4 separate regions of the Homo sapiens genome follow, and regions 1, 2 and 3 are each linked to region 4. The links come from fine-mapping of genetic effects on gene expression. A gene starts in region 4. Each other region holds a variant in brackets. All regions are shown on one strand. Distances are from middle to middle.

Region 1 (8,101 bases), 25 kb before region 4:
CACACCCCTTATAGCTTGTCCAGGAAGCAAAACTTGTGGAAGTGTCATAGTTACGGACTCAAGAGCAGAATGGAACACTAAGGACCATCATTGCCCCTCAGCCAGAGACCACAGTGTGTCTGGAATTGGTGGGTTCTTGGTCTCACTGACTTCAAGAATGAAGCCACAGACCCTCGCAGTGTTACAGTTCTTAAAGGCGGCGTGTTCGGAGTTTCTTCCTTCTGGTGGGTTCACGGTCTCGCTGGCTCAGGAATGAAGCTGCAGACCTTCGCGGTGAGTGTTATAGCTCTTAAGGCGACGCGTCTGGAGTTGTTCGTTCCTCCCAGTGGGTTCGTGGTCTATGCTGGCCTCAGAAGTGAGCCTGCAGACCTTCGTGGTGAGTGTTACAACTACATAAAGCCAGCGTGGACCCAAAGAGCAAAACAACAAAGCTTCCACAGTGTGAAAGGTGACCCCAGCGGGTTACCACTGCTGGCTGGGGCAGCCTGCTTTTATTCTCTTATGTGGCCCCACTCACATCCTGCTGATTGGTCATTTTACAGAGAGCCGATTGGTCCGTTTTGACAGGGTGCTGATTGGTGCATTTACAATCCCTGAGCTAGACACAGAGTGCCGATTGGTGTATTCACAATCCCTTAGCTAGACATAAAGATTCTCCAAGTCCCCACCAGATTAGCTAGATACAGAGTGCCGACTGGTGCATCCACAAACCCTGAGCTAGACACAGGGTGCTGATTGGTGTGTTTACAAACCTGAGCTAGATACAGAGTGCTGATTGGTGTTATTTACAATCCCTTAGCTAGACATAAAGGTTCTCCAAGTCCACACTAGACTCACGAGCCCAGCTGGCTTCACCCAGTGGATCCCGCACCGGGGGCCGCAGGTGGAGCTGCCTGCCAGTCCCGCGCAGTGCTCCCACAGTCCTCAGCCCTTGGGCGGTCGATGGGACCGGGCGCCGTGGAGCAGGGGGCAGCGCTCATTGGGGAGGCTCGGCCCTGCAGGAGCCCATGGCGGGGCGGGGCGGGGCAGGGCGGGCCGGGGCCGGGGCCGGGGCGGGGCGGGGGGGGCGGGGGGGGCGGGGGGGCGCGGCCTGGCGAGGCACAGGCAAGGCGCACTGCAGGTCCTGATCCCTGCCTCTCAGGGAGGCAGCTAAGGCCCTGCGAGAAATCGAGTGCAGCGCCAGTAGGCTGGCATTGCTGGGGTACCCGGCGCACCCTCCACAGCTGCTGTCCCGGGTGCTAAGCCCCTCACTGCCCGGGACTGGCGGGGCCTCTCCAAGTGCGGGGCCTACCAAGCCCAAGCCCACCCGGAACTGTAGCCGGCCCTCAAGTGCTGCGTGCAGCCCCGGTTCCCGCCCGTGCCTTTCTCTCCATACCTCCCGGAAGGCTGAGGGAGCCGGCTCCGGCCTCGGCCATCCCAGGAAGGGACTCCCACAGTGCAGCAGCGGGCTGAAGGGCTCCTCAAGTGCGGCCAGAGTGGGCGCCGAGGCTGAGGAGGCACCAAGAGCAAGCGAGGGCTGCGAGGGCTGCCAACACGCTGTCACCTCTCAACAGGAGCCACCCTTAGTTAAACAAGTTAAAAAGGCTCCACCTTCTGGAGCAGGAGGTGAGTGGAGGGGTAATAAAATGAGGCTGGGACAGGGTGCAGGGGCTCACACCTGTAATCCCAACACTTTGGGAGGCCAAGGCAAAAGGATTGATTCTGGCCAAGAGTTCAAGACCATCCTGGGCAACATAGCAAGACCCTGCCTCTACAAAAAATTCAAAAAACATTAGCCTGGAGTGGTGGTGTGTACCTGCAGTCCCAGCTGAGATGGGAAGCTGAGGCGAGAGGAGTTGGTTATGAAAGGGACTTAGAGGTTACTCCATAGGAGTGGGTGTCCCCAAGTCAGCCCCTCTAATTCCTGGTGGTTCAGGAGATAATCATAGCTAGCACCAATAATACTGAATCACATAATCAGAAACAAGTTCCATTTTCAACGTGTCTGGGCCCTTCTGATTAAGAATAACATGGTGTTTATGACTCTGGAACCAGACAGCATGGATTTGGATCCTGACTGTGACTTACCAGCTGTTTGACCTCAAGAAAGTTACTTAACCTCTCTGAGCTCTGGTTTCCTCATCCATAAAATGGGGATAGCAATCGTACCTACCTTATTGGGTTGTTACATTAACTTAGCTCACTTAAACTGCATATTGGTGACTTATTACATCTAGGAGAAAGTCTCTGTGTACTGTTAATGTGTTTTTAACATGCCTTGCCCATTTTGAGCCCATGCTCACTTTTAATAAAGTATTAGAATGTATCTCTGTGGAGACACACTCTAATTTTCAGCAGACAATGCTATCTAATTAGAATGTAATAATAACCTTGTTCCACTTTCCTGGTATTTTGTCTTTTTTAATAGTTATTTTCAATTTACGGCAGATAATACTGGGTTTCTGTCTTGGGTAGTAACATAAAGTTTCCTTTAAAAATAAATTATTTCGCTTGTTGGCAGGGAGAGGGAGAACATCAGGAAGAATAGCTAATGGATGCTGGGCTTAATACCTGGGTGATGGGATGATCTGCGCAGCAAACCACCATGGCACACGTTTACCTATGTAACAAACCTGCACATCCTGCACATGTACCCCTGAACTTAAAATAAAAGTTGAAGATGAAATAGTAATTATTATTAAAAAAGAAAAATTTTTTTAAGATGTGAGTTAAAAAGTTATAATGTGTGGGCGGCAAGCCACCCAGGTGCCGAGGCAAGAGACCAAGGACATGAGCTGTTCCAGTATAATAAAATATAAAACAAGAATAGTTATACTAGATATAGATCTTAGATATGATTATATATGAATATCATTAATCATTAGTTTGTAGCAATTACTCTTTATTCCAATATTATAATAATCCTTGCTCTATAATCATAACCTAGGAAAAACCAGGCCATACAGAGATAGGAGCTGAGGGGACACAGTGAGGAGTGACCAGAAGACAAGAGTGCGAGCCTTCTGTTATGCCCAGACAGGACCACCAGAAGGGCTCCTTGGTCTAGCGGTAATACCAGCATCTGGGAAAACGCCCGTTGCCAGGCGGACCATGGTCTAGCGGTAGCGTAAGTGTCAAGGAAGAACACATGATGCTTAGCAGACCGGGAAAGGGAGTCTCCCTTTCCCTGGGGTAGTTTAGAGAAGCCTCTACTCCTCCACTTCTTGTGGAGGGCCTGACATTAGTCAGGCTCGCCCGCAGTTATCCGGAGGCCTAACCATCTCTCTGTGATGCTGTGCTTCAGTGGTCATGCTCCTAATCCGCCTTCATGTTCCATCCTGTACACCTGGCTCTGCCTTCTAGATAGCAGTAGCAAAATTAGTGAAAGTACTAAAAGTCTCTGATATGCAGAAATAATGGCGTAAGCTGTCTCTCTCTCTCCGTCTCTCTCTCTCTCTCTCTGCCTTGGCTGCCAGGCAGGGAAGGGCCCCCTGTCTGGTGGACACGTGACCCACGTGGCTTTACCTACCATTGGAGATGACTTACACTCTTTACCCTGCCCCTTTTGTCTTGTATCCAATAAATAACAGCGCAGCCCGGCATTTGGGGCCACTACCAGTCTCCGTGACTTGGTGGTAGTGGTTCCCTGGGCCCAGCTGTCTTTTCTTTTGTCTCTTTGTCTTGTGTCTTTACTTCTACACTCTCTCGTCTCCACACACGGGGTGAAACCCACCAACCCTGTGGGGCTGGTCCCTACAATAAAGTAATTTTAAAACCTTAAATATTCCTGGGTGCACTGGCTCACACCTGTAATCCCAGCACTTTGGGAGGCCGAGGCAGGTGGATTACCTGAGGTCAGGAGTTTGAGACCAGCCTGGCCAACATGTTGAAACTCTGTCTCTAGTAAAAATACAAAAATTAGCTGGGCATGGTGGTGCATGCTCCCCAGCTACTCAGGAGGCTGAGGCAGGAGAATCACTTGAACCTGGGAGGTGGAGGTTGCAGCGAGCCGAGATCACACCACTGCACTCCAGCCTGGGTGATAGAGTGAGACTCTGTCTCAAAACAAACAAACAAACAAAAACCTTAAATATTAAAATATGTAATAAATAATACAAGTGGTTATAGATGTGGCAAATGTTCTGGAAGTGGTATGTGAATGAATGAAGTTTGGGAGCTTCGTTGTTGAGAGAAATCCTGGAGAATCCCTGGAGAGGTTTAAGCAGGAACACTCAGACAAGAGCTGCACTATAGGAGGCCTGACTCGAGTGGGGCCAAGGCTACTCTAAAACAGAGACAGGAGGCAGACAGTCCTCTGTCCTGCCTGGGGCTGAGATGGGCCAGGGACAGGAAGGAGGGGGAAATTCAGGAAATTTTGTGAATACTCATCTTACAAACAAATTGCAAATAGACAGCTTTGACACAATCTGAACACTGAATATAGGGCATTGAGTTATTTAAGGAATTATTTTTATTTTTGTTACGTATGAAAATGGCATGGTGGTATGTAAAAAACAGGCTGGGCATGGTGGCTCATGCCTATAATCCCAGCACTTTGAGAGGCCAAGGTGGGCAGATCACCTTAGGTCAGGAGTTCAAGACCAGGCTGGCCAACATGGTGAAACCCCGTTTCTACTAAAAATACAAAAATTAGC[C/CA]GGTGTGGTGGAGCACGCCTGTGGTTCCAGTTACTGGGGAGGCTGAGGCACAAGAATCACTTAAACCTGGCAGGCAGAGGTTGCAGTGAGCCGAGATTGTGCCACTGTACTCCAGCCTGGGTGATAGAGTGAGATTTCATCTCAAAACAAACAAAGTCATACATTGGCAATGGGGGCTGAAGTGATTACTTGTGTCTGGGATTTGTTTTGAAGCACTTGAGCAGCAGAAAAATGTGGAAGAGGGAGAGACGAAGCAAGATTGGCTAATGTTGGTAACAGTGGAAGCTGGGTGATTTGCTATATTATTGTCTAACTGGGTATATATCAAAATTTCCTTAATAAAAGTTTCCAAGGATGCAGTACCTCACTGGATCCATGTTCCATGGCATTAGAGAGGCAGTACTGTTTTCAGAAATGTCTGGACTGTGTATTCCATATCTTTGTTTAAACCCAGAATGAAAGCATTTAGTGACTGGACACCAGGACACTCCTTGCTATAAATGTTATGGAATCTCCGGTTGTGATTTCTTTTGGGCCTGGTGATTCCTTTCTAGAGTTGTCGGATCTACCAATATAGTTCACTTCTTTAGGAGGGTTCAACAGTCTCTGGCAATAAATAAGAGGGGGTTGTTGACCTTTATGACAAATACAGGAAGGGAGGGAAGAAGTAAAGGGAGGGAGGGAAGGAGAGAGAGAGGGAGAGAGGAAGGAGGAAGGGAGAGAGGGAAGGAGGGAGAGAGGTAAGAGGGGAGGAAGGAATAAAAGAGGAGGGGAGAGGGAAGAAGGAAGTGTTACCAAAATACCAGGGGTTTGGTCTAGGTCCTGCTGCTTGCTGCACAGAAATCAATTACTGAGACAAGTATTGCCAAGGAAGAAGCCTTTAATCAAGTGCTACAGCTGAGGAGATGGAAGCTCAGTCTCAAATCTATTTTCCTGACTGACTAAAACCAGCGGTTGGTATAGCAGGCAAGAAATGTAACAATGTGTAAGAAAACAGGAACTTGGGAGGGGCAAGGAGGCAATCATGGTGAATGAGGGGTCAGGCACCTAGTTCAGTCACCTGGTTTCAGTTCTTTGATACTTTTTGTGAGAGGCCTGAAGGTCCTTTCCTGAGGAAGGAACTCAGATAAAACAAATGTAAGTTTCAATCTTTAACAGCAGAATGGTCAATTTCTATGTTTATCCAAAAACAACTGTCTATGGGATTCTTGGGCCCCTTTCAGAAGGAAGAAAAGGAGCAGGAGGAAGGAGAGAAGATAAAGGAGAAGGCTCTTGAGATCATCTTGAGACCCAAGCCCTAAGTGTTTGGAATGGGCTCATCTCTGTTGGAAGGAGACAGTGCCTTCAGCCTTGGAATTCTCCCAAGAACTCTGGGCAGTAACTCTTCTGAGTGGTTTGAGCTGAGCTCAAGCCCAGGCAGATGTCACAGGACCATTTGTCCCACCCACCCAATGACAGGAGCCTGAGGATGTGCACATGCAAGCATGTGTGGCGGGACTCCTATCCACTTCTATACCTGGAGAAGGCAACTGCTCCTCAAGGCTTGGCTCATGAGTCCCCTCTCCCCCTTCCCTCTTCTGTGTCCCTGTATTAGTCAAGGTTCCAACAGAAACAGAACCAATAGACTTTATGTAGATGTACCGGAAGAGATTTATTGTGAGGGATTAGCTCCACAGTTATGAAGGCTGAGAAGTTCCATAATCCTCCATCTGCAAGCTGGGGGTCCAGGAAAGTCAGTAGTGTAAGTTCCAGTACCAGGAGCTCTGACATCAGAGGGCAAGGGAAGGTGGGTGTCCCAGCTCAAGCACAGGCAGCAAATTTGCCCTTCCTCCACCTTTTGGTTCTGTTAGACCCTCAGCACATTGAAAGATACTTACCTGCACTGGTGAGGGCAGATTTCTTTACTCAGTCTACTGCTTTAAATGCTGATCTCTTCTGGAAACAGACACACCAGAAATAATGTTTTACCAGCAATCTGGGCAGCTCTTAGCCTAGTCAAGTTGACACATCAAATTAGCCATCACCGTCTCCATGATTCTTCCCTCAGCCGTGGCACACATCGCACTGGGCGGTAATTGTTGGTCAGTTAATGTCTCCCCTACCGGGCATAACAGTAATAGAAATAACTAACAGCTACCATTCACAGCAGCTTGCCCTGTGCCAGCTTTTCTCCCAAGAGCTTTACCTCATGAGGTAGGTGCTATAATTTCTACTCTATAGAGATGAAAACTGAGGCTCAGAGAGATTGAGTCACTTGCCCAAAATCACACAGCAAGAGGGGACTGAAACGCAGCTCTGTCTTCCCACAAAGCAGTTGTTCTTAACCACATTTCTAACCAGCTTGCCTCTAGCTCCCCCTGTGCCTAGCGAATGGCTGGCTCCTTGGTAAATGCTTGAAGAAACACTCACCACTCTGACTCGACTTCCCTCCCAGTCTGGGGAGCCTGCCACCCTCCCCCAGCAACTTGCCTGCCTCATTCACTCCCAAAAGGTGCGATGGAATGAGAGTTCCACCTTGTTCACTTCAAGCTACAAACGTCTTTCTCCATCCCAAAGAGAAGTGGCTCAGTTTTATAAATAGCCCTAAGCTGGGAGCTGAGAGACCCCATTTTGAGCTCTGGCTCTGGCTGTGTGACCTTCACAAAATCACATAACCTCCATGAGTTTCGGTTTCTTTGTAGGGCAAATGGAGAAACCCCTTGTCCCTTGAGGGAAGGCATCTGACAGTGCTCAGCAAATGTTCTTTTCAGTTCTCCAGGAGGGGTTAAAGAATTCTTCCAGCATCCTGCTGAGGTGGGCTGGGGTGTCACACACACAGCACCAGGCCATGGACAGAAGCCTCTGCCGAGACCCAGGCAGAAGAAGTGGGGCCCAGAAGGAGCAGCCTGGTCCCCCCACAGGGCCAAGCAGATTGACTTCTGGAGCAAGGGGCTGCATCTGGGGGACTTCTCTGCAGGCAACACCTGAAGCCCTGACCATGGGCCAGTATAAATGAGGAGGATGGTTTGTTAGCCAAACCCACCTTCAGACACCTGCAGGATACCTATCAGCTGGAGGCTCTGGGAGTGAGCCAGCCCTGCCCCTCACTGTAGGGGTGGGAGATGATGGAAATGAATCTTTATTCCCAAATTCTACAAAACACTGTCACAGCCATAGCTTTCTTGTCTTCCTTGCTCCTCACCACTTCTCTCAGTTCAGTCCATTGCTCGAGCATCTACACTGTGCCAGGCACTGTACCAGGTGCTAGGTGGCAGGGAGGGTAAGTGCTATTGCATTTAACAACAAAGGGCGAAGTAGTGAGGCCAGAACTTGAATGCAGGGACTCTGCTCTTAAAACCCCACTTCTTCCTACTACTAACTCTCTTACAGCCAAAAGAGATTTCTCAGTCAGCTATGGAGACAGAAAAAACAGCAGGAAGGGAAATTGAAGGTGAGACAGAGGAGACATAGGAAAAGGGAGTGATATG
Region 2 (8,104 bases), 80 kb before region 4:
CTTATTCACTACCACGAGCACAATATGGGGGGAACCGCCCCCATGATTCAATAATCTCCCACCAGGTCCCTGCCACAACACATGGGAATTATGGGAGCTACAGTTCAAAATGAGATTTGGGTGGGGACACAGCCAAACCATATCACAATTACTATTTGGCTGAGTTTGCAGTAGTCCTCCATCATCCTCCAGGATCCATTCAATTCTTGCAGGAGTCAGTTTAGTGAATTAAATGGGGGGTAGATGGTGACCACGACCCCTGAATCTTTGAGATCTTCTAGAGAATTCAATGAAGAAGTAGTTTCAGCTGCATTTTACAGACAAAGAAACTGAAGTTTAGAGAGTTTTACAAATATTTATTGTAAAACTTTTTTTTGTCAAATCTGTTTGACTCACAAGCTTTTTACTTAATCACTAAGCTACCCAGCCAATAATTGTAATTAGAGTTAATTTAGGAAACTGAAAAAGAGATGACTAAATTGCTACATGTCCATAAAACTCCATCATGTTTTTTGTTAGAAATGTTATTAACAAGTCTAATTTTCAGATCAAAAGGGGCCAATTCTGCCTAATTTATTAAAAGTGGGAGATAATGCTGGGCACAGTGGCTTATGACTGTAATCTCAGCACTTTGGAAGGCTGAGGTGGGAGGATCGTTTGAGCCCAGGAGTTAGAGACCAGCCTGGGCAACAAAGCAAAACCCCATTTCTACAAAACATACAAAAAAATTAGCCAGGCATGATGGCACATACCTGTAGTCTCAGCTACTTGGGAGGCTGAGGTGGGAGGATCACTTGAGCCCAGAAGGTCAAGGCTGCAGTGAGCTGTGATCGTACCACTGCACTCCAGCCTGGGAGACACAGCGAGACCCTGTCTCAAAAAAAAAAAAAAAAAAAAAAAAAAAAAGTGGGAGATAAAACTCAGTGGAGAAAGTGTTAGTTTTTATTCCTGGCAGCTTTCAGACAAACTGTATTTCCTAAACTATATGCCAGGATGTTTCCTCATTTAATTTTTCCAGAATTGTAATGGAAAAAGAAAGAGGAAAAAAAGTTGCCACCCAAAACTAAAATATCCCTTTCCATATGGAGCAAAGCAGCATGAGGCTGTTGAGAGCCAGAGGATCAACTTTGTGCAAATGAAGCAGTGCAAGGAATGGCTCTCTGTGTGTCCTTAGGCAAGTCACCTCATGGATCTCAGTTGTTTTTTTTTTCTTGAGATGGAGCCGCACTCTGTAGCCCAAGCTGGAGTGCAGTGGCGTGATCTCGACTCACTGCGATCTTTGCCTCTGGGGCTCAAGCGATTCTCCTGCCTCAGCCTCCCAAGTAGCTGGGACTAGAGGTGTGCACCACCACACCCGGTAAATTTTTTTGTATTGTTAGTAAAGACGGGGTTTCATCATGTTGCCCTGGGTGGTCTCAAACTCCTGAGCTCAAGCGATCCACCTGCCTCGGCCCCCCAAAGTGCTGGGATTACAGATGTGAGCCACCATGCCTGGCCTGGATCTCAGTTTCTTTATCTGAATAATAATAATATCTGAATAATAATTATATAATATATAATATATATTTGTATATTTTATTATTATAATTATTTTATAATTTATCTGAATAATAATTATCTGAATAATAATAGTATCTACCTCAGAGGGTTGCTATGTCTCGCTCATCTCTGAGTCCCTAAAATATGTGGCACAAAGTAGCATTCAAAGAATATATGCTGAATGAATGAATAAATGAATTTTGAAGATTAAATGAGATGATGTACTTACATGGTGTATGGTAAATATTAGATTCTATAAGCCAGGTGCAGTGGCTCACGCCTGTAATCCTAGCACTTTGGGAGGCCGAGGTGGGTGGATTATTTGAGGTCAGGAGTTTGAGACCAGCCTCGCCAACATGATGAAACCCCATCTCTACTAAAAATATAAAAATTGACTGGGCAGACCTGATGGACGCCTGTAATCCCAGCTACTCAGGAGGCCGAGGCAGGAGAATCACTTGAGCCTGGGAGGCAGAGGTTGTGGTGAGCTGAGATCACACCACTGCACTCCTGTCTCAAAAAAAAAAAAGATTCTATGGTAGCGATTTGATGATACATATTGAAGCTTGAAAAACATGCATGTCTATTGATCCAACAATTCCATTTCTGAAAATGGAAACTTAATCCTAATAACTTTAGTAATTTAGAGTAAATTAATGATTATGATAATCTTGGTTAGTCAGGGCCGGGCGCAGTGGCTCATGCCTGTAATCCCCACACTTTGGGCGGCCGAGGCAGGCGGATCACGAGGTCAGGAGATTGAGACCATCCTGGCTAATGCAGTGAAACCCTGTCTCTACTAAAAATACAAAAAATTAGCCGGGCGTGGTGGTGGGAGCCTGTTGTCCCAGCTACTTGGGAGGCTGAGGCAGGAGAATGGCATGAACCTGGGAAGCAGAGCTTGCAGTGAGCCCAGATCGCACCACTGCACTCCAGCCTGGGTGACAGAGCGAGACTCCGTCCCAAAGAAAAAAAAAAAAAAATTCTTAGCTATTCAGATAATTAAGAATGCACCAGATATTTAGGTAAAAGAAGGCTCTTGGAAAAACAGTCTAAATGTCCATCATTTTTTTTGGTGAAGAATCTACATGTGTGACATACAGAAAGATTTGATAAGACTATACGTTAAGGTGGTGGTTCTCAAAGTGTGGCCCAGGGACTGGCAGCGTCAGTGTCATTTGAAAACTTGTCAAAAAATGTAAATTCTTGGGCCCCATCCCACATCTACTGAATCAGAAATTCCAGGGTGGGACACAGACATCTGGATTATTTTTGTTTGGTTGGTTTTTTTTTGAGACAAAGTCTTGCTCTGTCACCCAGGCTGGAGTGCAGTGGTGCAATCATGACTCACTGTACCCTCAACTTCCCAGGCTCAGGTGGATTCTCTCACCTCAGCCTCCCAAGTAGCTGGGACTACAGGCACACACTAGCATGCCCAGCTAATTTTTGTATTTTTAGTAGAGATGGGAGTTCACCATGTTGGCCAGGCTGGTCTTGAACTCCTGACCTCGTGATCTGCCCACCTTGGCCTCCCAATGTACTGGGATTACAGGCATGAACCATGGCGCCCGGCCCATTTTTTGTAGAGATAGGATTTCACCATGTTGCCTATGTTGATCTCAAACTCCTGGGCTCAAGTGATCCGCCCACCTAGGCCTCTCAAGTGCATTCAAGTTTGGGAATCACTGCTCTAACCACTGTTACTAGAAGTTGTTTATGAGTGAGAGTATGAATATATTAATACATATGTTTTAGAGACAGTCTCTCTCTGTCATCCTGGCTGGAGTGCAATGGTGCAATCACAGCTCACTGGGGCCTCCAACTTCCGGACTCAAATCATTTTCCCACCTCAGCTTCCCAAATAGCTAGGACTATAGGTGGGTACCACTGTGCCTAGCAATTTTAAAGATTTTTGTGGCGATGGAGTCTTGCTATATTGCTCAGGCTGGTCTCAAACTCCTGGGCTCAAGCAATCTTCTGCTTCAGCCTCCTAAAGTTCTGGGATTATAGTTGTGAGCCGCTGTGCCTGGACTTAATATTCTTATATTTCCTGGCTTTCCTGGAGTAAGATTACATTACCAACTGATATAAGAAATACCTACTAAAATTTTATTTTGAAAAGAAGAAAAAGTAGGCCAGGCACAGTGGCTCACACCTGTAATCCCAACTCTTTGGGAGGCTGAGGTGGGAGGATTTTTTGAAACCGGAAGTTTGAAACCAGCCTGAGGAACATAGTGAAATCCCATTTCAAAATAAAAGCTTGGTCTGGTGGCCTGTGTCTTTAGTCTTGGCTACCTGGGATGCTGAGGTTTGCTTGAACCCAGGAGGTTGAGGCTGCAGTTTGCTGTGACTGGGCAGAGGCACTGGAGCCTGGATGACAGAGCAAGATCCTATCTAAAAAAAAAAAAAAAAAGAAAAGAAGAAGAAACAAGAAGGAAGAAGGAAGAAGATCCCGAGTAGAAGTGAAAGGGGAGAAAAAAGTTATGAAAACAAACAAAAAACAAGAGAAAAAAAAGCATTCTTATCTCCCCAACATAGTTTCTTCTCCTGCCTTAGCTTTCTCCCCACATGAATGGAATGGTATGTACTTATGAGGTTGATTGATATCCCTGTTATTTTGTAGCTGCTTTTGTTTTCATTTAGTATTGCACGGCATTCCTGTATGAGGGAAGTCTAGCTAAACTTTAAAAAACATTACACAGCAGCATTTCCCATGATGTCACAGTCTTCAGAATAAGATATATATGTGTGTATATATATGTATATATATGTGTATATGTGTATATATGTATATATGTGTATATGTGTATATATGTATATATGTGTATATATGTATATAAGTGTATATATGTATATATATGTGTATGTGTGTGTGTGTGTGTATATATATATATTTTTTT[T/A]TTTGTTTTTAGAAGACAAGTCTCATTCTGTCACCCAGGCCGAAGTTGCAGTGGCAGGATCACAGTTCACTGCAGCCTTGAACTCCTGGGTGCAAGTAATCCTCCCATCTCAGCCTCTGGAGTAGCTGCGACTACTGGCATGCATCACCACACCCAGCTAATTTTTTTTTTATATTTTTTGTAGAGACAGGGTTTGGCCATGTTACCAAGGCTGGTCTTGAACTCCTGACCTTAAGTGATCCACCCACTTCAGCCTCCCAAAGTATTGGGATTATAGGCGTGAGCCACCATGCCCAGCCACACCCAGGTAATTTTCAAAATTTTTGCAGTCATCATTTTTTTAAAAAGGAGACATTCAGGTTACTTAATAGAGTTGTGCCCTTGATCACCCATTTCCCTTAGTTGTTTCCAATTTTTCACCAACATAAATAATGCTGCCACCAATATTTGCACATACACCTTTTCCTAAATTTCAAATTATGTCCTTAGGATAGATTCCCAGAACCTGGGTTGCTGGATCAAAGGGTAGGAACATTTTTATGGCTTCTGCTGGGTGTTGCCAGACTGCTCTCCCGATGAGTGGCTACTGGTTTATGCTGCCGTTAGCGTCGTACAAGACTGCCAGTTTCCACTAGGCCTTCCTAGTGTGAGGTATTATGATTGAAAATAGTTTTGCTATTTTAATGAGAAAATAAACTACCTCTCCATTGTTTTAACTTTCTTTGGTTATGAGAGACAATTTTTTTTTTTTTTTGAGACAGAGTCTCGCTGTGTCGCCCAGGCTGAAGTGCAGTGGCACGATCTCAGCTCACTGCAACCTACACCTCCCGGGTTCCCTCAGCCCCCCAAGTAGCTGGGACTACAGGTGCCAGCCACCACGCCCGGCTAATTTTTGTATTTTTAGTAGAGATGGGGTTTCACTATGTTGGCCAGGCTGGTCTTTTTTTTTTTTTTTTTTTTTTTTTTTTTTTTGAGACGGAGTCTTGCTCTGTGGCCCAGGCTGGAGTGCAATGGCACGATCTCTGCTCACTGCAAGCTCCGCCTCCCGGGTTCACGCCATTCTCCTGCCTCAGCCTCCCGAGTAGCTGGGACTACAGGCGTGCGCCACCTTGCCCGGCTAATTTTTTGTATTTTTAGTAGAGACGGGGTTTCACCGTATTCGCCAGGATGGTCTTGATCTCCTGACCTCGTGATCCACCCGCCTCGGCCTCCCAAAATGCTGGGATTACAGGCATGAGCCACCGCGCCCGGCCCCAGGCTGGTCTTGAACTCCTGATCTCATGATCTGCCTGCCTCAGCCTCCCAAAGTCCTGGATTACAGGCATGAGAGACAATTAACAGCTTCCCCCACCCCTTAAAAATAAGCTAGTTAAGGCCGGGCGCGGTGGCTCACGCCTGTAATCCCAGCACTTTGGGAGGCCGAGGCGGGTGGATCACGAGGTCAGGAGATCGAGACCATCCTGGGTAACACGGTGAAACCCTGTCTCTACTAAAAATGCAAAAAATTAGCCGGACGCGGTGGCGGGCACCTGTAGTCCCAGCTACTCGGGAGGCTGAGGCAGGAGAATGGCGTGAACCCGGGAGGTGGAGCTTGCAGTGAGCCGAGATAGCGCCACTGCACTCCAGCCTGAGCGACAGAGCGAGACTCCGCCTCAAAAAAAAAAAAAAAAAAAAGCTAGTTAATACTTCTTCTTTAGTAAATTGGATTGGGAGGAAAGCTCTGGCATGCTCACAGTTTAACCTCTCTAAGCCTCAGTTTCTTCATCTCCAAAATGGAGTGGTACCAAAGTGATTGTAAAGTCAAGTGAGATAAAGTCTGGGGTAACTTCTTTTAACAGTGTAGGTATTCATTACCATAATCCCACTCAGCCTCAAATTTACCTAATATTTACCTGTGTATCATAAAACCTTCTGCTTTGTCAATAATCTTTTTTTTTTCCCCTTTTGAAACGGGGTCTCACTTTGTCACCCATGCTGGAGTTCAGCGGCATGATCTTGGCTCACTTCAACCTCCACCTCCCGGGTTCAAGTGATTCTCCTGCCTCAGCCTTCTGAGAGTAGCTGGGATTATAGGCGCGCACCACCACGCCCAGCTAATTTTTGTATTTTTAGTAGAGACGGGGTTTTGCCATGTTGGCCCGGCTGGTCTTGAATTCCTGACCTCAGGTGATCTGCCCTCGGCCTCCCAAAATACTGGGATTACAGATGTGAGCCACCATGACCGGCCAGCAATCTTGAAAACTTCCACCGCATCCCAAATCTTGAAAAACCTCTCTCTCTTTGTGTGCGTATGAGACAGAGAGAGAGGAGTGAGAGACAGAGGAGAGAGAGAGGAGAGAGAGGAGTGAGAGACAGAGGAGAAGGAGAGAGGAGAGAGGAGAGAGAGAGAGACAGAGAGAGACAGAGACAGAGAGAGAGACAGACAGAGAGAGAGAGAGACCTGAGGTCTTAGAAGACCTGAGGTCTTAGAAGGCTGGAGGCAAGGTCCCTCCTTTCCATTCTTTAATTTCCTCCGTTTTTCGAGGGAAACACTACGACTTGTTTGGAGTCTTACGGATAAGAGCCCTCTGTTACTAATGATATTAATAATGGCATCTGTTAATGAGGACGTCGTTATTATCTAACATTGGCAGGAGAAGAAAGCTCCGCGGCACAAGGGAGCAACCTCTCGTGTTCTGCAGACCCGATTTCGCATTTGGGAGAAGAGCTCTACTCCCCACAAAAGTCAGTGACACTCCAGACCCTGCAGAGACGCCTCCAGGGTGCGAAGTGGACTCTGGCCGACCTGTCAGGGGCAGCAGCCAGAATCCATCAGTTAACCACTCTGAAGGAAGTTTCTGCTTCAACGTTTTCCCCGTTGCTAGGAAACACTGCTTTGCCGCTGCTCATTGGTTAGCGCCCCCTCTTGTGTCTATGCCCTGTAATAGCACCCACAGTTGAGCAAACAGTAAAGACTAACACATGATTTAAATCGTCTTTATTGTGAAATATAACATACAGAAAAGTATCTAGGATATACATACAGCTTGGAAAATAGATATTGTGTATCTATTGTGTAACCACCACCTACAAAAACAAAGCATTGCCAGCGCATTAGACACTGGCCCTGCTTCTCTCCCTCCTTCTCCCCAGCAGGTGTTTATCTTTTCACTTTCCTTACAGTTTTATTACCTGTATGTATGTATCCTTTTTTAATATTTTATTTTCTTTGTTTTCTGGCTGCTCCTCCAATTTGCCCTGCTTGTTTCTGCCTCAGGGGCTTCGTACTTGCTATTCCTTCTGCCTGAAACACTTTTCCTCCAGACAGCCGCATAGCTAGTCCTTCACTTCCTTTGCCCAACGTCATCTTTTCAGTGAGCACTTCCCCAGCACTCCCTGTCCCCTGCTTTTTTTTTTTTTTTTTTTTTTTTGACACTGAGTTTCACTCTTGTCACCCAGGCTGGAGTGCTCACTGCAACTTCCACCTCCTGGGTTCAAGCGATTCTCCTGCCTCAGCCTTTCAAGTAGCTGGAATTACAGCCACCCACCACCATGCCCACCTAATTATTGTAGTTTTAGTAGAGACAGGGTTTCACCGTGTTGGCCAGGCTGGTCTCAAACTCCTGACCTCAGGTGATCCACCTTCCTCGGCCTCTCAAAGTGCTGGGATTACAGGCGTGAGCCAC
Region 3 (8,104 bases), 450 kb after region 4:
CATGACAATCTGAAAGTCTGTCCGGCTGTCATTTCCTCCATTGCCCCCAGGCTCTGCTCTGTCGGGGACAGCCAGAGGTGTGCACTGCAGCACCTGGATGAATGTTGCGGCTGCTGTGGCCTCACCTCCCTCATCGCCCCCCTTGGGACAAGGACTGACCCTGCCTCGGCTGATAAAGAGCTCACTATGGTCAGGCTCCACGCCAGAAGCTGGGACTTGGCTCTCTCCTTCTTTTCTTCAGCCTGGAGCTGAAGCAGAAATTTCTCTCTCATAATTTTCACTCCATGAGCCTTCGCCCTACAGTTAGGGGCATCAGAATCACTTACAGTCTCGATGCCATCACATCAGCCGCCTTCTCACTTCCAAGTCAAGTGCAAATTTGATAAGTGAGTTTCATGGTCTCCATCTGGATCTGGATCTGGAGGGAGGGCCGGGGACTTCCTCTGGGCTGTTGACACCCCCCAGCCACCTCCCAGGGCACACAGGCATTGCAGGCACTGTTCCCCACTGCACGTTCCCCATCTTCCCACAGACACGCTGTGGGAACCCTGCCTCCACGGCCTAAGGAGACGCACTTACTGGGCCTGTCTTCCTGGGGTTCCAGTGGGCTCTTTGTCCAGGACCGTGGGCCACTGTTCACAGTCCTCTCCTGCCTTGTGCCTGTGGTCAAGTCCAAGCTCGTGGGAGTGTAGGTTTGGATGTCAAAATGCCCCCTACAGGTTCTTAAGGTTCCCCTGGAGTCACCAGGTTTGGGGGCATCCCCCATCCATTCACCCTCAGAGGGCTGCAAAGCTGGGTTCTGAGACCTCCCAGACTGCAGGAAGGGCAAGCTCTGGGCTTGGAAACCTGGGCTCTTTCCAAGTGGTCAGACCCCTATTGTGTCCCCAAGGCCACTGGAAATCCAGCATCTACGTGGGTTCAGGAGGAAGCCGGGGTTTTCCCCTTTATCTTCCTCATAGACAGTTCTGGCTACACCACTGCCTCTCAACAAAGAAGGAATCTCTCAGCTGGTGCTTGAGGATCCCCGAGCTCTGGACTTCCTGGCCTCATCCCCACCTCCCACCTGACTCCCACCTGTGCCCAGGTCCTGGGAAAACTAGAGTCCCTCTGGTTTCCAATCGGGCTCACCCTCAAAACCTACTCCCAGTCTCCCCTGAGAGAACGTGGAATGCCAACCCCTTCCTTGGCTCTGGTCCTCTCCCCACTCCAAGGCCTGTCCACACCATCCCCTTCTCCAGGAGGCCATTCCTGGCAGCTCCAAACCACTCATGCAGTCCTGCTCCCTCAGTACCCTTTGTGACTCTCAGAATAAAAGTAGCCCCCTTACAGGTCATGTGAAGGTTAAATAAAGTGCTGTAAGTATAAATCTTGGGATAGCACCTGGTGTGGCTGACAGTTACTAATCACGTCGTACAGACCAGGCTATTTTTATTATATCCATGTTATAGATGAGGAAACTGGAGTGCAGAGAGGTTGAGTAACTTGCCTGAGGTCACAGAGCTGCACAGAGAGGCTAAGTCACCTGCCAGAGGTCACACAGCTGCACAGAGAGATTGAGTAACTTGCCCGAGGTCACGTAGCTGCACAGACAGGTTAAGTCACTTGCCTAATGTCACAGAATTAATCAGTGCAGAGCTGGATTGGACCCAGACACTCTCGCCCCAGTCCGTGCTCCTGACTTCAATTCCCCTCTTATGAGAGGCTCTACCTCCTGACTCAGACTGTGGGCAGAGTCTGTCTCTCATCACTGGAATTCCTTGTTGGGTCTCAGCTCTACCTCTCAAAGGGTGGGACTTTGATGCGCAATTATAGAAAAGAAGGAAACTTCCTTTGGGGGAAGGAATTTCTTTTTTTTTTTTTTTTTTTTTTGAGACGGAGTCTTGCTCTGTCACCCAGGCTGGAGTGCAGTGGCGCGATCTCGGCTCACTGCAAGCTCTGCCTCCTAGGTTCTTGCCATTCTCCTGCCTTAGCCTCCTGAGTAGCTGGGACTACAGGCACCCGCCAGCACGCCCGGCTAATTTTTTTGTATTTTTAGTAGAGATGGGGTTTCACCGTGTTAGCCAGGATGGTCTCGATCTCCTGACCTCGTGATCTACCTGCCTCGGCCTCCCAAAGTGCTGAGATTACAAGCGTGAGCCACCTTGCCTGGCCCTTTGGGGGAATTTCTTATGGCTTCAAATGCTTTCACTGAAGAGAGTTTATTCTATTTCTATCCCTCAGTCATGCTCATCGGCTTATGTTCCCTTACTTCAGTCACATTAGGAACCAATACGGAGCTGTTATGGAGTTCGAATACCAGCTTGGGTTCGAATACCAGCTCTTGCTGTGTGACCCTAGGCAAACCACTCCATCTCTCTGGGTCTCGGTCTCCTCTTCTGAAAAACGAGGTGGGGGAGCCGGGGTCAAGGGGAGCGTAAGGTGAGATGGATGGGCACAAGCACAGGAGCAGACTCCAAGGAAGCACAGAGGAGGAGGACGCCAACAGAGCAGACGCTGCAGCCGTCATCCTCTTGGGGCAGGACTGATTCCAGGCACTCAGCCATGTGAAGACCCCCACAGGTTTCCATGGCAACTTTGCCACTAACCACGCAGATGCCCAAGGGCTGGTGATTAGCCTCCCTGGGCTCAGTTTCCCCACCTGTGAGGTGAGGGCCCGTCAGCTCCATTGCTGCCTGTGCAGCTGAGGTTCTAAGATTTTGCCTTTGATGTGGAGCGGTCTCATTTTTGTGGCTGCCATGGTGACCATCTCACAGCACGGCTCCACGTTTCCATGAGCAGGACACAGTTATGACATAACCTTCTTAGCCTTTCTAGGGCTTGTCACAGGCTTTCAGGGGACACAGCAAACAGTAAAAGCTCTGCAGATTCAACGAAGGCCAGCTGGGTTTGAACCAGCCATGCAGGGGAACCTCCAGGTGCGGTGGGAGCCAAGACAGCGAGATAGCTGAGGCTCAGCGGCACACACAGGAAGCATCGACCCTGTGTGGGATGACAGAGGCTAGGACAAACGCGGGGACCTGGTGCAATAGCCGCGGGACCAGCAGTGCCACGGTGATGTCTAATGGACAACTGTCAGCGAGTGCTATCAGCCCCACTTTCCTTTTTTTTTTTTTTTTGAGACAGAGTCTTGCTCTGTCACCCAGGCTGGAGTGCAGTGGCTTGATCTTGGCTCACTTCAACCTCCCCCCACCACCACCCTCCACCCCCAGGTTCACATGATTCTCCTGCCTCAGCCTCCGAGTAGCTGGGATTACAGGCGCCCGCCTCCACCTCACCCAGATAATTTATTTTATTTTATTTTATTTTATTTTATTTTATTTTATTTTAGTAGAGACACGGTTTCGCCATGTTGGCCAGGCTGATCTCAAACTCCTGACCTCAGGTGATCTGCCCGCCTCGGCCTCCCAAAGTGCTGGGATTGCAGGCATGAGCCACCGCACCTGGCCAGCCCCACTTTCAAGGGACATCCAGAACCCAGCTTTCCCC[C/G]ACCCCTGCTGCCACCCCTCTGGTCCCGCCACTGTCATCACTTGCCTGGATCATTGCAGTGGCCTCTCTGGGCTCCCTCCCTGCACCCACATGCCTGAGTCCCTGCCACATGCAGCATCCAGGGCTCCAGGTCCCCATCGCTCCTCCTCTGTCCAGAAGAGGCTCCCTGCCGGGGGTAAAGGCAGAGTCCTCCAGGGCCCTGTGTGAACTGCTGCTCCTTGACTTCTGAGTCCTCACCTCCTCTTACCCTCCCCCGGCTCCCCCTCAGTCACACCAGCCTCCTTGCCATTCCCCCAACAAGCCAGGCACCTGCAGGCCTCTGGGCCTTTGCACTGGCTGAGCCCTGGGCCAGGCTGGCTCTTCCCAGATGTGTACACAGCTCACTTGCCCACTTCCTTTAGGCCATTGCTTCCATTCCATCTAACATGCCAACACCACCTACCCACCCCAGCTCGATCTTTCTCCTAAGCACATTTCCAATCAAACACACTACATATAACCTCTATTTACCACCATTATTGTCTGGCTTTCCTCACTGAAATGAGAACCCTGAAGACAGGAATTTCCTTGTATTGTGCACTGTGGTAACTGCTCAGCAACTGGAACAGTTCTGGCTCATAGAGTAGAAGCTCAATAAATATTTATTGAATAAATAAATGAATAGTGTTTGCTGAAAGAACCTTCACACTCAGGAATATTTTAAGTGTTGCTGCAATTCCCGACCAGCAAGATGCAGAGGAAAACCTTGAGAAGAGGACCCAGAAGGAAACCACAGTATTTACACAGTGGCATCCAAAAGACTGAAATATGCCAGCTCAGAGCTGGAGCCTGGCCAAGGGGTACAAAGGTTCTGACAAGGACTGCACCATGCAGAGGTCACTGCCCGCTACCTGGGGTATGAGACTCTGTTCCATTCAACAATATTCTAATGAGACAGTCAATGTCCAAAAGAAGACTCCTGACAGGAGGGACCGAGCCAAGGCAGCTGAGCCAGCTAGGAGGATTGAGTGACAAGCACATACCCATGCCAGAATTAGAGGCCAGGCAGGAGGTTCCACAAAGGTACCTCCTGGGTGCTGAGTGCTGAGACTACAAAGCCAAAGAAATGAGTTTCTGACCTCATGTAGCTGAAAGCTTAATAAGTACAACAGTAGCAGCAGCAGAGCAAACCCAGAGCCCAGTGCTCACTATGCCCCACATACTGTTTTTCCCCGATTTTTTATTGTGGTAAACTACACACAACACAAAACGTATCATCTTACTCATTTTCAAGTGTACAGTTCAGTGGACTAAGTACATTCATAGTGCTGTGCAGCCATCACTACCATCCATCTCCAGGACTTTTTCATCCTCCCAAATTGAAACTCTGCCCCCATTAAACACGAACTCACCAATCCCCCTCCCCTCAGCCCCTGGCGTCCATCCTTCCACTTTCTGTCTCTACAAATGTGACTACTCCAGGACACTCTTTATAAGGGGATCGTATGGATCTGCCCTTTTGTGAGCAGCTCATGTCATCTGGCACCTGCCCTCGAGATTCATCCACACTGTAGCATGTGTCAGAATGTCCTTTGTTTTTAAGGCTCAACCATATTCCACTGTGTGCATAGACCACAGTTTGTGAATCGGTTTATCTGTGGTTAGACACTGGGGTTGCTTCCATCTTTTGGCTGCTGTGAATAACACTGCTATGAATGTGGGTGTGCGAGTATCTCTTCGACGCCCCGCGTTCAATTCTTTTGGGCATATGCCCACAAGTGGGATTGCGGGATGCAATGGTGAGTCTATGTTTAATTTTTTGAGGAACCACCACAACGTTTCCACAGTGGCGGCACCATTTACATTCCCACCAGCAAGGCACAAGGGTTCCAATTTCTCCACAACTTCACCAACAGACTTCTTATTATCTATGTTTTTTTTTGTTTTTGTTTGTTTGTTTGTTTTGAGACGGAGTCTTGCTCTGTCACCCAGGCTGGAGTAGAGTGGCACAATCTCAGCTCACTGCCAGCTCCGCTTCCCGGGTTCACGCCATTCTCCTGCCTCAGCCTCCCGAGTAGCTGGGACCACAGGCACCCGCCACCACTCCCGGCCAATTTTTTATATTTTTAGTAGTGACGGAGTTTCACCTTGTTAGCCAGGATGGTCTCGATCTCCTGACCTCGTGATCCGCCCGCCTCGGCCTCCCAAAGTGCTGGGACTACAGGCGTAAGCCACCGCACCCGGTCCCTTATTATCTACGTTTTTGATAGTAGCCACCCTGGTGGGTGTGAGGTTGCTTCTCGCTGTGGCTTTGACTGGATTTCTCCTGATGATGTTCAGCAGGACAAGAAAGTCTTTAAAGTGCTTTGAAAATATTGACTCACTTAAACCCCCAATAGCCCTATAGGATAGTTACCATTATTATCCCTGTTTTATAGATTTAACATTTCACTGAGGCAGAGAGAGGCTTGGTAACTTGCCATAGGGTACAGAGGCTAATACCATGAGTGGCAGAGCCGGGATCTGAACTCAGAGTATCAGACTCCAGAATGCAAGAGTTCCCAGAGAAGGGGTGTGGCACCCCCTGGTCAGCAGATTCCTCCCCGGAAGTAATCATCCCCACCCGAGGCAGCTTAGCCAAGATGGCGGGTATTGAGTGGTGCGGTGACACTGGACAGGGGGTTGGAAGAGCTCACACCAAGGCTGAATGAAGCTTCGGTAATACTCTGCTTTCAACTCATTTCCCCGCTGCCATACAGAAAACTACACTCAACTCCATTTTCCTAAAAACGCCATGCATCAAAATATTAGATAAGGGGTAGTCAGCATTTGATTTCTAAAAGGCAAAATGTGAGTGCACACAAGGGCACTAAGCAGAATGATTCTCTTAAGCAACTCTATTTTTGAAGTATCAACAGCCTCATTTTCTGGGAAGATTACTGCATGTAGGAGGAGCTCCGCTGTGCGACAAAAGCTAAATTAGGGAGGACAAAAGGCCACGGTTTTATCTGACGAAGAGGTAACCCAGCACCCATGCTTTTCCAAGTGCCTCGGTGGTTATGTCAAATGGCTCTGATACCCGGGGCCCCCAGAAGCAGAACCCCATTAAGACGGGGTGAAGAACACAGGCCACCGATGGAAGCTGTGTTTCCACCGCTGGAAATAGCTGCACATGCCTGACTGGGGCCCCAGCTTCTGACCAACAGGTGATGCGCCACTCAGGCAGCAGCCCCTCCACATAACTACAAGCCCTGCCTCCACTGTCGCATCTGAGGACAGAGGGCACTTCGGGCCACAGTCAGCCGTCACGTTGACCTGGAGGTCCTGGCTGGCATCACAACGCTGCCCTCTGACCTCACTTTGGCTTTATCCCTTTGTTTTCTGATCCAGATGAGATGCTCCACCCACATCGGCGTGCAGCCTGGCCTTGGTTTGATTGCAGACTCAGCAAACATGAACCGAGCCCGCTCCCCATGGCTAGGCCACACCCTGGGGACGCACTGGGGTCCTGAGGCCTCGCTGGCCAGGAGGTGCCCAGGCTGGACACGGAGGCCTGATGGCAGTGCCACAAGGGCGCCATGAACACACCCGGCCCATCAGTCCCCATGTCCAGCCCTCTTCCCTGCTCCACACCTCCAACTGGTGATCAGGAAGGCTAAGATGTGCCTGAAACCATTCTGAGCAGAGGTTGGTCCAAACCCCCCTGCACAAAGGTGTTAGTGAGGGATGAGCTGCAAAGAGCAAAAGGGCAGTAGGCAAGGTTTCATCACAGCCAGCACCGGCTGCAGGAAAACCAGCTCAAGCCCCCTTCGGTGACAGGCTTTGGCATTTGAGTAAAGCCCAAACCGCAGGCAAACACTTTCAACGACACAGCTCCCTGGCGCTTCCTACTCGTTTTCCTCCCTCCTCCTCCATGGACTCAAGTCCAGGTTCTACCACTCTACTGCCCAGCGAGCAGCAGGTGGCAGAGCCCTGCACCGGAGGGCTCTCCACAGCTCAGCTTAGAATCCTGGACGGCCCTGCCTGTCCCCACATTAGAGATGAGGAAACCGAGGCCCAGGGCTGCCCAGCTTTCCCAGGCCGCAGAGTTAGCCACCTGCGACCCGGGGCCTCCATGCGGTCTCTGTGCATCCACACAGCCTTCCTGCTTCCCCAGCATCCTGACAAAGCTCCAGATCCGACAAGGCACATCCACACAGCCCTCCCCCAACCTCCCTCGACAATCAGAGCGGACGCACTGGCAGGAACGTCTGGAAGACCAACCTCCACGTCAGGCAGCTCTAGAAGCTGCTTTTGTGTTAATTCAAAACTAATTTTCTGGTACCCAAGAAGGAACCAGGAACAGGTTCTTTTCTTTCCAAACCAGCTGGGCTTTAACAGAGAACACGCATGGCTGACCACCCCCCAGCACCCCAGCCCAAGGGAGGGGAGCCACTGCCTCTCTCCCCTAAAAGAGGCAGACCGGACACTGGGCTTCGGTGCTGCAGCCAGGGGTTCCTGAGGACGGCTCTGCCTTGTGAGACGGAGGTCTGTCCCCTGATCCTGAGGACACCTGAAGGGCCCTCTCCAACCTGGGGCAACAGGTGTATTGCTATGGATGGGGCTGGGGCTCCCACACGCAGGGCCTATGCTTGTATTG
Region 4 (8,104 bases):
GCTGAGGCAGGAGAATTACTTGAGCCTGGGAGGTGGGGGTTGCAGTGAGCTGAGATTGCACCACTGCACTCCAGCTTGGGCAACAGAGCAAGATTCCATCTCAATAAATAACTGAATTAATTAAATAAATAAAATAAAATAAACTGATCTGGCTGGGCGCAGTGGCTCACACCTGTAATCCCAGCACTTCGGTAGGCTGAGGCGGGTGGATCACCTGAGGTCAGGAGTTCAAGACTATCCTGGCCAACATGGTGAAACCCCATCTCTACTAAAAATACAAAATTTTGCCGTGTGTGGCGGCGGGTGCCTGTAGTCCCAGCTACTCGGGAGGCTGGGGCAGGAGAACTGCTTGAACCTGGGAGGCAGAGGTTGCAGTGAGCCGAGATCACACAACTGCACTCCAGACTGGGCAACAGAGGGATACTCTGTCTCAAAAACAACAACAAAAACTGATCAAGTTACCTTCTTGCTTTACGCCATCCAGTGTTCCCTGGCGTTAGTGTTCCCACATAAAATTAGTGTTCCCATATAAAATACGAACTCCTTGCCTTGGCCTGAAAGGTTTCAAGTAATCTGGCCCCTGTCCACCTCTCTGTCCTCATTTCCTCAGTGGAAGACTGATCTCATTCCATTCCAGCCATAGCCCGCCCTCCCTCTCTCCCTCCCTCCCTTCCTCCCTTCCTCCCCTCCTTTTTTTTGAAACAGGGTCTACTTTGTCACCCAGGCTGGAGTGCAGTGGTGCGATCACAGCTTACTGCAACCTCTGCCTCCCAGGCTCACCTCTGCCTCCCAGGTTCAAGAGATTCTTCCACCTCAGCCCCCCAAGTAGCTGGGACTACAGGCGTGTGCCATCACACCCGGCTGATTTTTGCATTTTTTGTAGAGACAGGGTTTCACCATGTTGCCCAGGCTGGTCTTTAACTCCTGAGCTTATGTGATCCACCCACCTCAACCTCCCAAAATGCTGGGATTACAGGCATGAGCCACTGCGCCCAGCCAGCCACAGCCTTTTCTTTTCTTTCTTTCTTTCTTTCCTTTTTTTTGAGATGGAGTCTCGCTCTGTTTCCCAGGCTGGAGTGCAGTGGTGCCATCTTGGCTCACTGCAAGCTCCGCCTCCCGGGTTCACGCCATTCTCTTGCCTCAGCCTCCCGAGTAGCTGGGATTACAGGCGCCCACCATCACGCCCGGCTAATTTTTGTATTTTTAGTAGAGACGGGGTTTCACCTTGTTAGCCAGGATGGTCTCGATTTCCTGACCTTGTGATCCACCCGCCTCAGCCTCCCAAAGTGCTGGGATTACAGGCGTGAGCCACCGTGCCCGGCCCAGCCACAGCATTTTCTTAAACACATCAGGCTGGTTCCCACCTTGAGACCTTTTTTTTTTTTTTTTTTTTTGAGGCAGAATCTTGCTCTGTCGCCAGGCTGGAGTGCAGTGGCGCGATCTCGTCTCACTGCGAACTCTGCCTCCCGGGTTCACGCCATTCTCCTGCCTCAGCCTCCTGAGTAGCTGGGACTACAGGTGCCCGCCACCACGCCCGGCTAATTTTTTTGTATTTTTAGTAGAGACGGGGTTTCATCGTGTTAGCCAGGATGGTCTCGATTTCCTGACCTCGTGATCCTCCTGCCTCGGCCTCCCAAAGTGCTGGGATTACAGGTGTGAGCCACCGCACCCGGCCACCACCTCGGGACCTTTGCACCTGCTGCTCCCTCTGTCTGGGAAGCCCTTCCCTCAAAACTTTGCCCAGCTGCTTCATCTGTTGAGGTCTTAGCCCAAATGTCTCCTCCTCAAAAAGTGCCCTCCCTGACCTTTGCTGAAGTTGCCCCTCCACGCTCCAGGAACTCTCTATTTTATTTTCTGAAGAGCTCTTATTTTCCTTATCTAATCACTTTCTTCCTTCTTGCTGATTTCCTACACTAAAATGTAAAGTCCCCAGGGGGCAGGGGCCGTTTGTGTCTAACACCCTGCTGCGTTGCATCCTTGTTGTACAGATCTGCACTGTCCATTATGATAGCCACTACCCATAGTGGGCTATTTAAAGTTAAGTTAATGAAAAATAAATATAATTAAGAATTTGGTTCCCCAGTCACACTAATTCCATTTCAAGTGCTCAATAGCCACATGTGGCTAGTGGCTATCATATTAGATACTATACTGAAGATGTAGAACATTTTCAACATTGCAGTGTTCTATTAGCTTTGGTCTAGAACCTACGTACCTCATAATAACAGGTGTTCAAGGGGGGTGTCAATTTAATAAAGATTTTTTTTTTTTTTTTGAGACGGAGTCTCGCTCTGTCGCCCAGGCTGGAGTGCAGTGGCGCGATCTCCGCTCACTGCAAGCTCCGCCTCCCGGGTTCACGCCATTCTCCTGCCTCAGCCTCCCGAGTAGCTGGGACTACAGGCGCCTGCCACCACACCCGGCTAATTTTTTTGTATTTTTAGTAGAGACGGGGTTTCACTGTGTTAGCCAGGATGGTCGTGATCTCCTGACCTCGTGATCCGCCCGCCTCGGCCTCCCAAGTGAATAAAGATTTCTTTTATCCTTATCTTATGAGTGAGAAAAACATAGCCCAGAGAGGTTGTTTCATTATCCCAAGGTCACACAGCCAGGAAGGAGCCTAGCAGAGATTTGAAGCCAGGCTTGTCTGGCTCTGAAGCACACACTACTCCCTTTCCCATCCAGCAGCCTCCTGGCTGTTTATGGAAGGATTGCTGCGCAGGATATTAAGGGATCTGCAGTCAATCCTGACTCCATCCCAGATTCATTGGCTGTGTGACCCTCAGCAAATCCCTTTGCTTCTCGGCCTCAGTTGCATTGCTAAAAAAATGAAGAAACTGACCCTGCCGTCCTGAGGGTTGGGGATGCGAGGCAGGGGGCCTTGTGTGACTCAGTTCATTCCCCAGATCCTGTCTGGCTCAGGGGCGGGCAAGCATCGTGGGTGAGGGGTCTTTTGGTTGGCCTGACCAGCTTTGGTTGATAGCTCCTGTTTCTTGAATGCCTACAGATGAGAAAGCGGAGGTAAAGTAACTTGGCCAAGGCTACACAGCAGAAGAGGCAGAAGTGGGATTCGAACCTGAGACTCTATGATATTACGTCCATGCCGCAAGACAGAGCTGGCACCTACGGGAATAACAAGGAGGTGGTGGCAGGGTAGTGAGCTCCCCGTCTCTGGGGGTGTGTGCAATCCGGCGCTGCGCTGTCAGCAGGGCAAGGGCTGGGGCCGGGGCCAAGACCACCAAGCCAGGCCCAGGCCCGCCCGCCTCCCGCGGCCGCCACGGCCAAGGCGTGAGCACGGGGCGGGGCGGGAGCTGCTATTTCTGTCTGGTGAGCGCAGCCCGCGCAGCTGGCGAGGGAGGGGGCGCCCGCGCCGCCATATTCCCTCCCGCCGGCCGGCTCCGCGGCGCGCAGCCACCATGAGCACCGCCGCCTTCCACATCTCCAGCCTCCTGGAGAAGATGACGTCCAGCGACAAGGACTTCAGGTGCAGCCCGCCGCCGGCCCCCTTCTCTCCTTCCCGCTCTGAAGCCGGGGGCCTTCTTCCCCTCTCGAAGCGCCAGCCCATCCCCCATGACCATGCAGCCCCCTGCCTCTTCTCTCTTCTCCCTGCATTAAGCTGCCCCCCTCCCCACAGGCCCACTCCTGCCTCGTGGTCCCCACTGGAGCTCCGGCCGTTCTCCCCTAGGGGCCGTCCTGCCCCTCCGCGACTCCAGTCCCTGCTTCGTCTCCCACCGTGCAGGCTTCAGCCCTACCTCTCACCCCCGATCAGAGCCCCGGCTCCACCCCTCTGCACCCTGCCTCGGCCTCTCCTCCCTCGTGTGTGTCCGGCCCCCTTCTTCCCCCGCAGCTGATGCCCCAGCGCCCCCTCCCCCCCGCCCCCACCACCTTCAGCGAGCCCACAGTGAAGCCCTACGCCTCTCCCTGGGGACCCCAGCACCTGCCTCTCCTCCGCATTGAACCCGGACCCTTCCCGGGACCGCAACCCCCAGCTGACTTTCTCACTGGCACCCTCAGTGATGCCTCCTTCTCAACATCACCCGGACCCCTCCCTCCCCGTCTCCCTCCCCTCCTGCGATTGTTCAGACCCAGCCTAAAGGAGGGGGCTGGGCTGAGTCTGGCTTTCCAGTCACAGGTAGGTGATGGTTGGGGTGGGACCTTCTAGGTTTTGTGTGCCACTCTCCTTCCCCACTCCCTTTTTCCTTCTTTCCCCCTCTCACAGCATCACAGAACCACAGGAATAGAGCTGAAAAGAACGGTGGAAACATCTGGTCCAATGAGTTTCCACCTGCATTCCCTGGGGAAACTGAGGCCCAGGGAGGAAAAGGGATTGGCCCGTGGTCTCATGGCCAGTTCTGGCCCCTCCAGCTGAAAGAAGACCTTGGAGACTCAATGAACATTTTTTCACTTTGTCCCCATTTTACAGATAGGGAAACTGAGTCTCAGAGACATGAAGGGCGTAGGTTCAGTCACAGCGAGGAAGTGGGAGACTTAGTCCAAATCCAGGCCAGTCTAATACAGAGGCCAAGATCTTAGTGAGGTCCTCTGATTCCAGCCCCCTGACAGGTGAGGAGACAGACCTGCTCTGGTGGTCTGACTCCTACTCTTCTCCTGCAGCCCATTCCTCAGTACCCCTCAAGAGCCCCCCCACATTAATAGAGCCTGGGATCCAAGGTCTTGGCTTCAGATCCCAGCTGCCGTCACTCACTGGCCGTGTGACCATGGACAAGTAACTTAACCCCCATGAGTCTCCCTGTGCTTCTGTTTCTATAAAATGGGGATAACAGAACCCATCTCTGAGGGTTGGGGTAAGGATTAAATAAGATAGTACATGTGAAATGCTCAGGTTCATGGCAGGCACTAGGTCGGTGCTTCATAAACGGACACTGTTATGATTCTGTGCACATCCAAAATCTGCCACGCCCTGTCCCCTCTCTAGACCTTCACTAGGGGGATTCTTTGCTCTCCCTTGACCTCCTCCCTTCATCTGACAGCTCCTATAACTCTTGACCCCAGGCAGGATTAGGTACCTCCTTTCAGCTCCCATCATGCCTCCCCTCATGTTTCTGCTAGATCACTTTTCAGCCCTGGGAGACCCTGAGCTCCTGGGCCACTGGGACTATGCACTTCCTCTTAGTGCCCCAACACCTGTGCTGAGTACACGGTAGGTGCTTAGTGAATGTTCGCTGGGTCCCAGGCTCCCTACTGTGCACCCCACGTGTAATCTCAGTCCACCCATGGGTGGTAGTGATTGTTCTTCCTGTTTTCCGGAGGCTTGGAGGAGTGCAGTGACTTGCCCAAGGTCACAGAGCTGGCTAGTGGCCTAGGGGATTTGCGCTAGTGTCTCTCAGGCCTCTGGTCCAGTCTCTGGGAGAGGGAGTTGGCCCTGCCAGCTACAGCCCGAGAAGCCCTTTCAGCCTGTCTCTGCCAGTGGCCTGGAGAACACTTAAAACCACCCCAAGCATGTGAGAATGGTGTCTATTTTTAAAGTCCGAATACCAGGGTGCTGGGTCCTGCAGACCAGCTGTCCAGGCGTCCGTGTGGCCAAGGGTTTCAGCTGAGTTGCCTCTAGGGTTTCTCTGTAATGAAACTGAGACTGTCCTCTGGTTCCTGGAGCGGGGCAGCGACTGCAAATGGGGGTCCCAGGTGGGGTGGAGGGAGACCTTTGTTTCCTGTTCTTCCTGGGCCCTGGCTTTATGGGCAGGAGGTGCCCCATTACCACGGAGGCTCCAGCAGTCAAAACGAGTACCCTTGCAGGTCTTGCAGGAATTACCAAGTCATTTCTTGAAAACACAGTAGTATTATTGGTTGAAAAGCCAGGAGACCTGTGTGGTGGGCTGGTTTTCCGCCCAGTTTGCTGTTACCGTAGGCAGTTTGTGCAGCCTCCCTGAGCCTAGTTTTCTTACTACCTCATGCTAAGAGCTAGATTGTCCTATTGAAACCTCCCAAGGATACTATGAGGTAGGGCAAAGAAAAGTTCCCATTTTATATATAGAAAATCTGAGGCCCAGAGAAAAGGAGGTAGTTGCCCAATGTCACCTAGTTGATAAATGGCAAGACTAGTAAGTATACTCACTTAAAGCCAAACTTTGGTGCTCAAGCTCTTATCCACCAAATTATATACTTTTCCTTCTCTCTCCCATCCCTACACACATACACGTATAAAACATGGCTTGCTTTCTCCGAGAGCTAGTGTCTGCAGGAACCAGGGGTGTCTGAAATGCTGAGGCATACTTCAGAAGAGTTGGTTTCTGAATTCGGACTATTTGGCTGTAAGTTCTGTTAAGGGCTAGCTCTCTCACTACCTCTCCTCCTGCTCTCACCCTCCCTGACAAAGCCCTCTGCAGACCTGTTCTTTGTTGAGCCTGGAGTCCCAGAGATAAACCTGATGAGCCTCTGCCCTCAGTGAGTGTACAGTCCAATGGAGAAGATGCTCTGGTGGCCAGACTTGTATTGCAGTGTGAGAAGTGCTATAAAGGAGGGGTGCAGAGTGCTCTGAAAGGATCTTGTCCAGGGAACCATTGTGCTTAGGGGCTGTGGATGCAGGGGTAGGGCAGGGAGGTCAGTCATCCTTGAGCTGGGACATTTGAGCTGGGCTCTTGATGGGTGAATAGGAGGAGCTCAACAGATGAAGAAGAAGAGCGGGGATAGAAGGCCTATCTTGGGCAAAGAGGCACATCGCCTGGGTTGCCAGGCTGAGCTGGGCCCCCATGGACTGCAGCAGAAACACAACTTGGAGACCCTGGGTGCCATCTCAGAATGTCCCCTCAGCTGAGCAGACGTAGGGGTGCATGTGCTCACCTCAGGCCTTGGCCTGGCTCAAATCCAAACCTCCTCCTTCACTTTACCTTTGCCCAGAGGTGGGCACAGTCAGTCCTGCCATCCTGCCCATGCTGCCAGCCCAGCCTCCTTCTCTCTCCTAGCAACTTGTGGCTAATCTACCTGTTAAAAATAAATAGGTCATCGACCAGTCCACCCCTGGTAACAGGGCACTGTGGGCTGCAGTGACATCTAGGAGCAGGTCTGAGTCTGCACAGATGAGAGCCAGAATCCCAACTGTGATAGATTTTGCCACAGGAGGCGGGGGTCAGGGCTCTTGGTTGATTTGCTCAACCATGCTGGAAAGCAGGGCCAGCGTGGGGTGGTAGAGTGGCCCAGCAGGGTCAGTAAAAGCTGGAGGCTTTCTCCGAGGCAGCCTTACAGTATCTCCTCGCTGCTCTGTCCTGTTTTCTCCTGAGACTCCGCTCTCACATGCCTGCAGGAGCCAGTCAGTGGGTGAAGTGGGCCTAGTGGGGACCAGGTGAACTGGGGAGAGGGCAGCCACAACCTGATTCTAATCAGGTATTGTCACCAGGGATTGTAGGCCCCGTTGTACTCAAATATTCTGTTTTCAAGATAATCTGGAAGTCAGTGTTTTGTTTTTGTTTTTGTTTTTGTTTTTTTTTGAGTCTCACTCTGTCACCCAGGCTGGAGTGCTGTGGCACGATCTTGGCTCACTGCAACCTCTGCCTCCTGGGTTCAAGTGATTCTCCTGCCTCAGCCTCCCAAGTAGCTGGGACTACAGGTGTGCACCACCATACCTGGCTAATTTTCGTATTTTTAGTAGAGATGGGGTTTCCCCCTGTTGGCCAGGCTGGTCTCTAATTTCTGACCTTAAGTGATCTGGCGACCTTGGCCTCCCAAAGTGCTGGGATTGCAGGCGTGAGCTGCTGCGCCCAGCCTGGAAATCAGTATTTTTTTTTTTTTTTTTTTTTGAGATGGATACTCGCACTGTTACCCAGGCTGGAGTGCAGTGGCACGATCTCAGCTCACTGCAACCTTTGCCTCCCGGGTTCAAGTGATTCACCTGCCTCAGCCTTCCCAGTAGCTAGGATTACAGGTGTCTGCCACCGCGCTCGGCTAATTTTTGTATTTTTAATAGAGACAGGGTTTCACCATATTGGCCAGGCTGATCTAGAACTTTTGACCTCAGGTGATCCACCCGCCTCAGCCTCCTAAAGTGCTGGGATTACAGGCGTGAGCCGCCATGCCAGGCCAAAGTCAGTATTTTTGTGTCAACTTTCCCAATGTTCAAATGTTGACAAGTAATTTAAATTTTTGAAAACATGTT

Alleles and levels. Positions count from the first base shown, and alleles are read on the strand shown. Sizes are in standard deviations (SD) of each study's normalised expression. Not every link is listed here.
As copies of T replace A in region 2, the expression in skeletal muscle of the gene that starts at base 3,373 in region 4 goes up (moderate effect, 0.41 SD a copy in FUSION).

What was found. PIP is the estimated chance that this variant, and not a neighbour inherited with it, causes the effect.
Region 1: its variant is fine-mapped to the expression of CAND2 in lymphoblastoid cells (GEUVADIS, PIP 0.95).
Region 2: its variant is fine-mapped to the expression of CAND2 in skeletal muscle (FUSION, PIP 0.91).
Region 3: its variant is fine-mapped to the expression of CAND2 in amygdala (GTEx, PIP above 0.99).

What each region holds. Positions count from the first base shown.
Region 1 is chr3:12,767,876-12,775,976 of GRCh38, forward strand. It overlaps a transcript of TMEM40 not described here. Among named protein-coding and RNA genes, the nearest start is that of TMEM40, 13 kb to the left of the region's middle. The variant C/CA (reference allele first, on the strand shown) is at 4,635.
Region 2 is chr3:12,712,897-12,721,000 of GRCh38, forward strand. No RefSeq gene overlaps it. Among named protein-coding and RNA genes, the nearest start is that of TMEM40, 42 kb to the right of the region's middle. RefSeq lists an enhancer at 7,130-7,179. The variant T/A (reference allele first, on the strand shown) is at 4,440.
Region 3 is chr3:13,247,321-13,255,424 of GRCh38, forward strand. It overlaps a transcript of IQSEC1 not described here. Among named protein-coding and RNA genes, the nearest start is that of NUP210, 170 kb to the right of the region's middle. RefSeq lists enhancers at 6,456-7,265, 7,266-8,074. The variant C/G (reference allele first, on the strand shown) is at 3,487.
Region 4 is chr3:12,793,308-12,801,411 of GRCh38, forward strand. CAND2 (cullin associated and neddylation dissociated 2 (putative)) reads left to right here and starts at 3,373. Exons shown (of 15, transcript NM_001162499.2): 1 at 3,373-3,481. The coding sequence starts at 3,414.